Regions from separate parts of the Homo sapiens genome. Here region 1 is linked to region 2. Evidence: fine-mapped expression QTL. Tissue or cell type: whole blood. Region 2 holds a variant in brackets; the other region holds the start of a gene. All regions are shown on one strand. Distances are from middle to middle.

Evidence for each region. PIP is the estimated chance that this variant, and not a neighbour inherited with it, causes the effect.
Region 1: GLG1 starts here. The variant in region 2 is fine-mapped to the expression of GLG1 in whole blood (INTERVAL, PIP 0.93).

Annotation. Positions count from the first base shown.
Region 1 is chr16:74,603,459-74,609,061 of GRCh38, forward strand. It overlaps GLG1 (golgi glycoprotein 1), which reads right to left and starts at 3,656. Exons shown (of 26, transcript NM_001145667.2): 1 at 3,199-3,656. The coding sequence starts at 3,636. RefSeq lists silencers at 3,227-3,406, 3,637-3,826.
Region 2 is chr16:74,561,265-74,568,003 of GRCh38, forward strand. The region is part of intron 1 of GLG1 (golgi glycoprotein 1); the gene reads right to left. Among named protein-coding and RNA genes, the nearest start is that of GLG1, 42 kb to the right of the region's middle. RefSeq lists enhancers at 4,333-4,834, 6,477-6,739. The variant C/T (reference allele first, on the strand shown) is at 2,963.

The DNA.
Region 1 (5,603 bases), 42 kb after region 2:
TTAGAGACGGTGTCTCACTATGTTGCCAGGCTGGTACTGAACTCCTAGCTCAAGCAATCCTCCTGCCTCAGCCTCCCAAAGGGCTAGGATTTCAAGTGTGAGCCACTGCGCCCGGCTGAACACCACAAACTTCTAAGGAACCAAGGTCTCCATCTGAAACTTCGAAATACAAGACACTAGTGGAAAAAAAAAAAGTGCTACTGGCCATTTCAACCAAGAATAAGTAAAGTATTTTAAAATGACTGACAACATCAAGCATGCCTTCCTTATCACATACTAAGCAACAGTATCTTCTCTTTCTTTGGTATTATTACTCCACCTACTAGAACAGCCCAGGGAATATTTTTTCTTTTCTGCCTTACACTTTCTAATTTTTTGTTTTTATTTAAATAACTTGAACTACTAATAATTATACACACACAACTAGGACTACTAACACACCATTACTGGCTATTACATCTATTATTTCATAGTGGACCCATGATATACTTGGCCTTTTTAAAAGCATGACTCATCCGAGAGCGTTAAAAAAAAAAAAAAAGAATCCCAAGGCCAGGCACAGTGGCTCACAACTCTAATCCCAGCACTTTGGAAAGCCCAGCTGGGAAGATCACTTGAACCCGGAATGTGGAGGCTTCAGTGAACTCTCAAACCCAGAAGACTGAGGCTGCAGTGAGCTATGACTGCACCACTGCACTCCAGCCTGGATGACAGAGCGAGACCCTGTCTCCATAATAAAAAATTTTTTTTCAGAAAGAAAAGTTCCATAAGGTTCCAAAAAGCAAAAGTTAAGTTTGACATATGCCAAGTACTACAGTGAATCCACATGAATGAACTGATATGTAGGCACTGTACTAGGTATCACAAGTATTTTAGAGAAGACAAGAATTCGGAAGGGTGTGCACAGATGATATGGAAATACGACACCATTTTATACGGTATAAGGTACTTGAGCGTCCTTGGATTTCAATATCTGCAGGAGGCCTGGAACCATCCTCCAGTGATACCAAGGAACAACTGTACTCATATGCTCTGCCTTTTCATAATTCCAATAATGGGTACGGATAGGAAAATGTTCCCTGCATTTGCATGCAAAGGGACAGAAAAGTACATATATCTATTTCACTATCAAATAGTTCTACTTACTGAACAGCAAATACAAAACATATTCTATACATGTTTCTTCAAATGTGCCTAACTAGTTTACTTCTTTAAGTTATGCTCTTTCAAACACATAGATCAGATTTAATTAACTCCCAGACTAAGCAGAATGAAATTTCCTTTCGCTGTCTTTAAAGAAAAAGAAAATAGGGTGGGGGTGGTGGCTCACACCACTAATCTCAGCACTTTGGGAGCCCGAGGCTGGCAGATCACAAGGTCAGGAGATCGAGACCATCCTGGCCAACATGGTGAAACCCTGTCTCTACTAAAAATACAAAAATTAGCTGGGCGTGGTGGCGCTCGCCTGTAGTCCCAGGTACTCAGGTGGCTGAGGCAGAATTGCTTAAAGCCGGGAGGTGGAGGTTGCAGTGAGCCAAGTTCAAGCCACTGCACTCCAGCCTGGCGACAGAGTGAGACTCCATCTCAAAAAAAAGAAAAGAAGTTTAAAAATAACTCCACCTCCTGAAGAATACACATAGGTGTTCACAGTACTCTTCCTTCATTATTTCTGTATGTAAAAACTGGAGGAAAAAACATTAAATTGGAAATTTGGTCCCTCCACCTCCCCCCAACCCCCCAAAACCCCCATTTCCAATTTATATGACGCCTTTCCTCCTCTGGAGCATAAAACTGCCTCCTTTAAGTGGAGGTTTCCAAATGTCCGGAATACACATGAAGGATATATACACTCCTTGAATAGGCCACTTTTTGCCACTTTCCCTAATAATGTGCTGTTTCTACCACAAACTACTACTAATTGTTTGGTCACCAGTATTAGGATCCTAGTTTGATGAAACGACATCTATTATGTGTCCTCAAAGAGCGAAAAGAAAATTCCAAAAAGTTCGACAGAGTTAGGAATATTAGCTGTATCTACCAGAGGACTATCCCTCTAGTCGTTAAGCTGAAGATGAGAAGTCAGGTAAGGCCTCACATTTCTAGGGGCTCTGGAAACTTCCTTTCTTTCTGTCTCCTGCTTATGTATGTCTTTTCCTCTATCTGAATTGCTTTTGTATAGAATACTAGAACACGAGATGAAGGGGGGAAATGCCAAGAGAAGCAAATTTCTACAAGCAAGTGGTCTTGCTATAGCTTGAACGCCTTAAACAAATCTGATATTTAAAAAAAAAACCAAAAACAGTATCAAGTGGTAGCTTCATTCTATTTGTCCACCTTTAGGGCTAATTTTATATACCTACACCTCTGGAAAAAGTTACTACTGTCAGATTTGCTCCCAAACTTTGAGAATTGTCATTATGGTCTGCAGCATTAAACCTAGATTATAAATTATCAATGTCACTTGATTATAAATTATCAATGTCACTCAACTGAATCACACCAAGCAACGACAAATGTAGATTTCATTAAGAGATACTGTTAAAATCACATTCAGACCTCAGAAAGGCAAGATCCCATAACCCAGTCACAAACACAGCTTCAAACGCTTCCCCAACTTTTCAAGCTTTGGGGCGCCAAGTCACTGGGAGTTAACAGCTTAAACATGGGGTTCAATACAACTGACCAAAGGAAGTGAAGAAAACAAAGCATACATTAATTTCAGCACCAAAAATATGGATTTGCGAATTACATCTACTGCTAATAAACAGATCATTCTTTACAGCCTAAGTACGCCAGGCATTTTTTTATGTTTAAATGGCTTGCCACAAATTGTCCTAGTCGAAACTGATGGCAAAATCCTAAACTGATCTTCGGCGAGGAGACACTCTGCATAGAGCATCACACAAAAGACAGGAGCGAACAGACACGCTCTGGGCCTCGGCGGATTGCGGCCAGGAGCCCAGGTTTTCGTCCCAGACCCCGGCAACAGGGAGGGAAATAAGGGCGGGGGAAAGAAGGAGTGGGAGTGGTATCCTTTTCCCTGAAAGCGCCTGGGAGTGAGGAGCAAAGAGGGAAGGAGCGAGTGCAGCACAGAGGAAGCAAGGAAAGCAGCCGACCGGCGTCAGCGGCTTCCAAGGCCGGCAACACCCTCGGGCCCGCACCAGGCCTGGCCCTCCCGGCTTCGTCCCACCTCCTCACCTCCCTCACATCCTGCAGGCACTCGAGCACCGCCAGGTTGTTGCTCCAGGTGTGCTTAGGGCACACGCGGGTCACGTCCTCCCTGCAGGACTCTTCCTCCGCCAGCTTCCAGCCCCCACCAGCCCCCGCTCCTCCCCGCCGGGCCGGAGGCCCACCCGCCGGGAAAGGCGGCTGCGGCGGCTGAGGCTGCTGTTGCTGTTGCTGCTGCTGCTGTTGCTGCTGAAGCTGCGATGACTGAGGCAGCTGGGGCAGCTGCTGACCCGCCGGGCCGCCGCCTCCGGCCTGCCCTACGAAGGACACAAAGTTGGCCCCGGGACCCTGGCCCTGGCTGTGGACGCCCTGGCCGGGGAGTTTCTCGGCCCCGGCCGCGAATAGCAGCAGCAGATGCAGCGCCGCCGACAAGCGGAACATCCTCCGTACACGTCCACACGCCGCCATCTTGAGTCCGCGGCGAGCTCGACGCACTCGCCGGCGCCGCGTATTTAAATGAGGGGGTGGAGACGCTGGGCGTGGCAGCGTGGCCCTGCCGAGCCCCGCCCCGCCGGCGCCGACCCGCGAACCCAGAGTGGGGCGAAGGAGGAGGCCGTGCTGGAAACCGCACACACCCTGGACCGGCGGGCGGGAGAGCGGCGCTCCTTACCCGGGGGGGTTGCTGGGGTTTCTTAAAAAGCCCGGGCAGGGCGGCCTACTCTAATTCCATTTGCTGTCACAAAAAAAAAAATCAAGGGAATTGGGGTTGCCACAACCAAAATGGCCGGTAGAATATGTCGCCGGTTCAATGACTTGGAAAACAAAAACTTTATATGTAGAGGTGAACTTTGCACAACCAGGTGTATTACGGAATCGGAAAGCCTCTCCTTGTATCGCTCCCTCCTTCCTTCCTTCCTTCCATCTGCCTCAGAAGTCTTTCTTAGCCAAAGAGAGAGACAGCATTGAATAGGGTTAAGAGCATAAGTTCTGGGGTAAGAAAAAAAATTAAGGTTATAATCCTTGCTCTGGCAGGGTACGCAAGAGCTCAAATGTAAAGTACCATTGGCAAGATTCGAAATAATAATTTAAGTGCCTGGCCCACAACACTGAACTCAAAAAGTCACAGCCAGTATTGTTAATAAACTGGGAAGCCGTTTATGCATGAATCCTGATTTTAAGCCAGCATTTAGATTCATGTTTAAAGGATGAAAAAATAATAATAAAACACATCTTTGAGGACTCGGGTTAAGTCTGTGTGTCGGTAACTGTTCTCATTGACCTGCATGCAACACCGCAGGCACCCCACACTAGCATCCCCTCCCTGTCCTTAGGAGAGAGGATATGTTCCCAAAGCCTCTTCACATCCGCTGTGTAATCTGAGCCATGCATCAGGCCTGCGTTAGGTTCTCATTTAACTGAAGAATGGCACAGAGATGTTAACAGTTCTGCGTGGAGGGATTAAATGAGCTGCCCAAGAGGAACTCTGCCATCCTGTAGACAGCTAGGCTAGCCACCAGAATCCCTGGGGCTTCCCACCACCCTGGCGCACTTTCATCCCACTCTGTCCATGCACATGTTGGGGAATGAGGGCAGTTTGGGTTGTGTAATCTCCACTGGTCATTGTGTCCAAAAATGCGAATTACATCTACTGTAGTAAACAGACAGCTTCTGCTGTCCTGACCCGCAAATGAGCAGTCAAGACCAAGTTAGACATAACTAGAACCTGAAAAGTCAGGAGCTCAGGGAACCCAAAAGGAGCTCCTGAGACTGAAGATATTCTGTGAGTACAAATTACCCACTGTGGCTGACCCCAGGCCTCTATCATGGGGAATGAGAGCTTGTTGGCATCTCCACCAACGGTCACCTTTGCTACTGTCATAAAATGATCATGAGGCTGCTGCTAACCTTGAGCACTGACTAAGGCAGCCCCATGTTTATTAGCAAACACATGGCATAGGTAAGTTTCAGTCAGGCAGGCTGGACACATCACCAGAAGTCCTTGAGATGTCACTAGCGTATGTTAATTTTTTTTTTTTTTTTTTGAGACGGAATCTCACTCTGTTGCCCAGGCTGGAGTGCAGTGGCGTGATCTCTGCTCGGAGCTGCCACCTCCACCTCCTGGGTTCAAGCAGTTCTCCTGCCTCAGCCTCCGAGTGGCTGGGATTACAGGCATGTGCCACCACACCCAGCTAATTTTTGTATTTTTAGTAGCGACGGGGTTTTGCCATGTTGGCCAGGCTGGTCTCGAACCCCAAACCTCAGGCGATCTGCCCACCTCAGCCTCCCAAAGTGCTAGGATTACAGGCGTGAGGTACTGCGCCTGGCCTCCATTAATTTTCAATGCTGAGTCTGCATGTGTTCAGACAAGTGGGAGATTATTTTAAGCCAGTTTAACTAGAAATTGACAATCCTAGATAAGCCATCAGTTACTTATC
Region 2 (6,739 bases):
CATGACCACAACCAAATTTTCTTGTCAATTATGTCTTTAACCATGATCATTTTGTTTCCACAGTTAATTGCTTTATACGGATGCATTTTCTTTAAGCTCTTTACAACCAAGTAAAATCCTAGAGCATTATGTCTTCAAGAACGTTCATGGAAAGTAATGGAAAGGACCCTAATAAGCACTACTGAATACAAGTTTCTGATAACTTTAGGCTCATCTAATTTGGACTGGGTAAGAATTCCCAGAACTTTAATAAAGAGACTGGTTTATAAAACTGCTAACCCAAGCAGGACAAAAATTAACTGAATACTAAGAAAAATACTCTGCCAGATTTTCATGCTAAATCAGCCAGTACTAAAACTGTTAAGATATGCAACTTGAATGAACTCTATGTTCCAAGTCAAATTACCTATGATAACCCATTTAATGAACAGTGCTATGCACCTGAATTGGAGATACAAAATTGGTATTTAACAGGCTATAAATGCAATGTTAAGCATGGAATCACAGAGATCCTGCACAGCCACCTGGTCCTTCCTGAATCCGTAAATCTTCCATTATTAAAAGCTCTGCACTCCATGACTCATCATGGAAGACAGAAAATGATCCAAATAGAAAACATATACATTGGTGTGGTGACTGCTCTAAATCGCTAAAAATGGTTTATGACCAAGGTTTGGCTTATCAAACCTACAACCTGGGAAGATAATTAAAACTTCAGCTACCTGATGGGTCATTGGAACACTTATAGAGGAATTTCATTCAACTGTCATTTTCAACACGTTTTCTGGTAAAAGCTTTCTCATGCAAGAAGGCTGATGCTATAACAGTAGCTAAAAGGTTGTCAGAAAATGTGTTTCCCTCACGGGGCATTCCTGGAGAAATCTCCAGTGATAGTGGTACTTGTTTCACTGGACAAGTTGTAAACAGTTAAGTAAGGTATTACAGACACAACAGCTTTAGGTGAAGCTAACTGAATTGACTGGTTGCCTTGGTCAAAGGTATTGCAGATTGATGACAACCTCATCTGCTTCCAGTAGAAAATATAAGTTGACTCATTATGAAATAGTCACTGGAAGGCCTATGCCACTAATAATAGAACCTCATGTATCTTCCTCTCCCAAACTCTGATATGAATAAATGCTGCAAGCCTTTAATGCATTATACCAAAGTGTATTTTCACCAGCTAAAGGAAGCTTTTCTTTTTTTTATTTTCTGTAGATGGTCTCACTCTGTTGCCCAGGCTGGAGAGCAGTGGTGTGATCTCAGCTCTCTGCAACCTCCACCTCCCGGGTTCAAGCAATTCTTGTGCCTCAGCCTCCCAAGCAGCTGGGATTACAGGCATGCGCCACCACACCCAGCTAATTTTTGTATTTTTAGTAGAGATGGGGTTTCACCATGTTGGTCAGGCTGGTCTTGAACTCCTGGGTTCCAGAGACCTGACCTCCAGTGATTCGCCCACCTCGGCCTCCCAAAGTGTAGAGATTACAGGCATGAGCTACCGTGCTGGCAGTAAAGGAAGCTTTTCATGACCCACCCACTGAGGACATTCAAATCCTTCACAATCTAGAACCTGGAGGTTGGTTCTTCTGGAAATGACGTCAGGAAAACACTGCCCTTGTTACCCACAATGAAGCAAAACTCTGGGGCCTCAAACACTGGGTCAATTGATATCACAATGCAGGAGGGCCCCTCCAGACTTGGAATTGTACACCCATTGGAAATCTTAACGTAAAGCTAACCAGTTAGAAAAGGTTTTCCCCCAGAAGCAGATGGCACCCTAGACATGGACAGCTTTCCCAAAAGCATGGATCAAAACTTCTCTGTCATCATGAGACTCTTACCTCTCAATGTTTTCCTTGTTTATGCCTCTATGAACAACAGAAAAGGGGTCTTATGGTGCACCAATGGGGCACACTTTTATTTGTGAAAACTTTTACAGCCAACCTTATCCATAGGCAGCATTATGTCTTAATGGATGAAAGATGACAGTCCAATGTGGGTTAGGAATTTTAATGGTTCTGTCAGAAAGAGAACACTGGTCCACTCCTTTTAACCTACATCAGAGGTGAAAAAGAACACTAGTGCTTGGAAGCCTTCATCATTCTGAATGGCCTTCATTGTTAGGTCACTTTTTCCAGAGTTTGGAGTAAACGATACAGTGTCTAGAAATTTGTCCCTCATGGGCTGGACGCAGTGGCTCATGCCTGTAATCCAAGCACTTTGGGAGGCTGAGGTGGGCAGATCACTTGAGGTCAGGAGTTCAAGACCAGCCTGGTCAAAATGGGAACTCTGTCTCTAGCAGAAACACAAAAATTAGCGGGGCGTGGTGGCGTGTGCCTGTAGTCCCAGCTATTTGCGAGGCTGAGGTGGGAGAACTGCTTGAACCCAGGAGGCAGAGGTTGCAGGGAGCCGAGATCACGCCACTATTCTCCAGCCTGCGCAACAGAGTGAGACCCTGTCTCAAAAAAAAAAAAAAGAAAGAAAAAGAAAAAAAAAAGAAATTTGTTCCTCATGATATGCTCCATAGCAGATTCTACTGCAAAGGCTATGGTTACAAAACAGACTTCTTTAAATTATCTTGCTAAAGGTCTACTGGATAACAGAATTGCTCAAGGTTGCCTACTGGCTAATCAGGGAAGTATCTGTGAAGTTGCTGACACTTTTATTTTTATTCTTTGAGACAGGTTTTTGCTCTGTCACCCAGGCCGGACTGCAGTGGCTCAATCATGACTCATTTAGCCTCAACCTTCTGGGCTCAAGTGATCCTCCCACCCAGCCTCCTGAGTAGTGGAACTACCAGCATGTGCCACGAGGCCCGGCTAATTTTTGTATTTTCTGTAGAGACAGGGTCTTGCTATGTTGCCTACGCTGTCTTGAACTCCTGGCCTCAGGGATCCTCCCGCTTCGGCCTTCCAAAATGCTGGGATTAACAGGTGTGAGCCATCATACCAGGCCTTGCTGA[C/T]ACCTCTTGTTGCACGTGGATGAATATACTGGATATTACAGAGATTCAGTTGTAGGGGATTAATGAACTGGCTGCTTGGTTGAAATGAGTAGATTGTTTATCTTGCTCATTCTTTGATCTATTTGATTTTAGTTGGTTTGGTTCATGCGAACTCTGGCTAAGGAGCATACTCCAAACTCTTAGTATTATCCTCCTAACAGTCATAATAGCAGTCTCCCTGCTGCATTATATTCTCTCAAAAGTTATAAATGTTTGCATGCAGCCATCTATGTAAGTTCAAATGGTCTCTCTTCAGCAGGAATGATAAACACTCAAAGACATGCATGATCATGAGGACACCAAAACCTATGAATAAAGTGCTAGGACTGGAAACCCAAAAGGATGGTAACTGAGTAGCACTAAAGCCCTAAGTTTCAGTAACACTCACACCCAAGTGAGAACCTGACCAAAAAGGCGAAGCTGTTAAACAAAATTGTGAGAGCCCACTGTTTTGGATTAAGCTTATTCACTAGGCATCAATAGGCTAGACCAGATCAAACCTAAATGAAGTCACTCATGCTAAATGCAACATCATCAAATTGAAACTTTAAGGAAGCAGAAAGATCCCAAACAGCCCAGGTTTTTTATTCCTTTCCTAAAAACAAGAGATCCCAGCATAAGGAGGTTGCCCCTGCTCTAATCCCTACAGAAAACTAACCTGAAGTCCTTGTTCCCCACCTTGCAAAAGCCAGTTTTGTTACCTCCCAGTTGGATTTGAGATCAAATAAGTACATTTATGGATGCCTAAAGTTTTGTCAACCTCTCAAAATTGACAAACAATACAAAATTGAGGCCAGATGGGGTGGCTCATGCCTGTAATCCCAACACTTTGGGAGGCTGAGATGAGCAAATCACTGGATGTCAGGAGTTCAAGACCAACATGGTGAAATCTGTCTCTACTAAAAATATAAAAATTAGACAGGTGCAGTAGCACACGCCTATAATCCCAGGTACTTGGGAGGCTGAGACATGAGAATCACTTGAACCCAGGGGGCAGAAGTTGCAGTGAACCGAGATTTTATGACTACACCCCAGTCTAGGCAACAGAGCCACTCCATCTCAAAAACAACAACAATAACAAAACAAAACTGAGAGGTTGACCAAAGAGGGGAATTGTTAAAGTTAGCCTAAAGCTGCCTTCTTACATATTTTAAGTTCGGGCCTAAAGATTTCTCAGTACATAGGGAACTGTAACCTGACTAGAAGAGAAAACAAACTGCAACCTACTCCTGTAACAAGTAACTCAGTCTCCGCCAATCACAGCAGCCATACTTCACTCATAGACCGCCAACTGCTTAAACTGTGTTCAGATAAGCCAAAGGCCCAGCTGTAACCAATCCTGCAGTTTCTGTACCTCACTTCCTTTCCTGTATGTCACTTTCCTTTTTCTGTCCATAAATCCTCTCCAACCATACACCAGCACCAGAGTAGTTCTCAACCTTTCCTGGTTCGAGAGGCTGCCTGATTCGCAAATTATTCTTTGCACAATTAAATTCTGTTAAATTTGTCTGAAGTTTTTCTTTTAACACACCTTATTGGTTCTATGTCTCTGGAGAACACTGCCTAATACAAACCAAACTAAAAAGTTTGGTTTAGGTTTGGTTTTGCTTAAAGCAGTGTTTTCTAACGTTCCGTCTTTGTTACAGGATCCCATCCAGGATTTAGTCACCATGCCTTCTTAGGCTCCTTGTTCTGATGATCTTGACTGTTTTGAGGAAACCTCGTCAGGTATTTTGTAGAACGTCCCTCAATTTGGGTTTGTGTGACGTTTTCCTCATGGGTTATAGGCTTTTTGGAGAAAGACCATATAGGTAAAGTGCCATTCTCAACAATCGCATCAAAGGCATACATGCTACAAACACCACCTCACTCATAACGTCAACTTTGATCACTTGGCCAAGGTTTCTCCACTGTAAAATGATTCCCTTTCCACCTTCCCATAGGCTACTCTTTGGAAGCAATTCACCAAGCTCAGCCCATCATCAAGAAAGAAATGCAGAGGCCCACCTCCTGGACAGGGAAAGTATCTACATAAATTATTTGTGATTCTTCTCTACAGGACATTTGTCTTTTCTATTTATTTATTTAACAGAATTTATTTTTGTCCCCAAGCCAGTTCTTTCTACCACGGCTTCATCGTTCCCACAGGGAGTAACCCCCACATACCCAGTGAAACTTTTGGTTTATCTTTAATTTTTCTCCTGTATGTCTCATATTTTAATCCTTTAAAGAGCTCTCCATTGTCATCTTTTTCCAATGTTGTTTAGATTTAGTCAATCTCTTTTCCTTCTGTCATGACTTTAATCCAGACTACCGTCTTCATTCTCTCGAAGAGTTAACCTCTGAGCAGGTCTCTTTTTTTCCCCTCCATGCCTATTCTGTTGTAATTTGCCTTTTATATCCTTTAGTCATACTATTAGATTATTATTCTTATACTTTCAAAAGTATAATTTTAGTAGCATTACAGAGTCAAGACCATTCCCAACCCTAGAACTCAGAATGGAGAAAGTGCATAATAAATATCTGATGGGAAGTAGAAGATACAACAAATTTTTTTCCACCACAATTTATTCTCCACACCAGGAAAATAATACCCTGCAGGAAACTTTAAATAAACAACAGAAATATTTAAACATTAATTATTTTAAACCTAACACATATTGCTAAGATGTGAATGAAAAGTATATATAGTCACGCAAAGAATATAGATATCAGAGGAGAAAATGTTTAAGATGTTGCAAAACTATAGGAAGCTAAGAAAAAGAAAATTGTCTTTGCCCAGAAAAAGAATCTAAGAAAACCTTTCAGGCCGCTTAATGGGTCTCCTAAAATCTAGCATTTTTGAATTTTCTATAGGAGAAAATCTTGAATAAAATTACATGATTACATGTAATTGTGTGTGTGTGTGTTGTGTGTGGGGGGTGTAGGGAGCGGGGAGAGAGAGACAGAGAGAGAGAGAGAGAGACAGACAGAGAGAGGAGTTAGCTGTTTCTTTTGTTTTGTTGGTAGGAGGAACAGAGTTAAGTTCAATTACCAATGTTGTAACACGTCCCTCAGCTCTGGCCTGGCTCACAATAGTTTCACTGAAATTTGTAATGCCAGCGCTTTAGAATTTGAAATGAGAAATTGACAGGTATCTCTTTATTCTAATGATAGAAGCAAATACAAAACATTGGGGTTTCCTAGGACACAGGACTATTCTTCATTTGGGTCACGTCAGAAGTAAAACTCCAAAAGATAAAAATCACTGCTTCCTGTGCTGAAACCTTACTATATATGGTGCACTTTCTTTTTTTTTTTTTTTTTTTTTTTTTGAGACGGAGTCTCGCTCTGTCGCCCAGGTCGGACTGCGGACTGCAGTGGCGCAATCTCGGCTCACTGCAAGCTCCGCTTCCCGGGTTCACGCCATTCTCCTGCCTCAGCCTCCCGAGTAGCTGGGACTACAGGCGCCCGCCACCGCGCCCGGCTAATTTTTTGTATTTTTAGTAGAGACGGGGTTTCACCTTGTTAGCCAGGATGGTCTCGATCTCCTGACCTCATGATCCACCCGCCTCGGCCTCCCAAAGTGCTGGGATTACAGGCGTGAGCCACCGCGCCCGGCCATATGGTGCACTTTCATTGTCTGCTTCTCTAGCCTCCTGGCTTTCTTTTGGGGATTCACCCAACTCTGTCAATCTCAGTCTGAGTGCTCCAGGTCGGGCCTCATTCCTGACACAGATAGAGCAAATGAGTCCACAT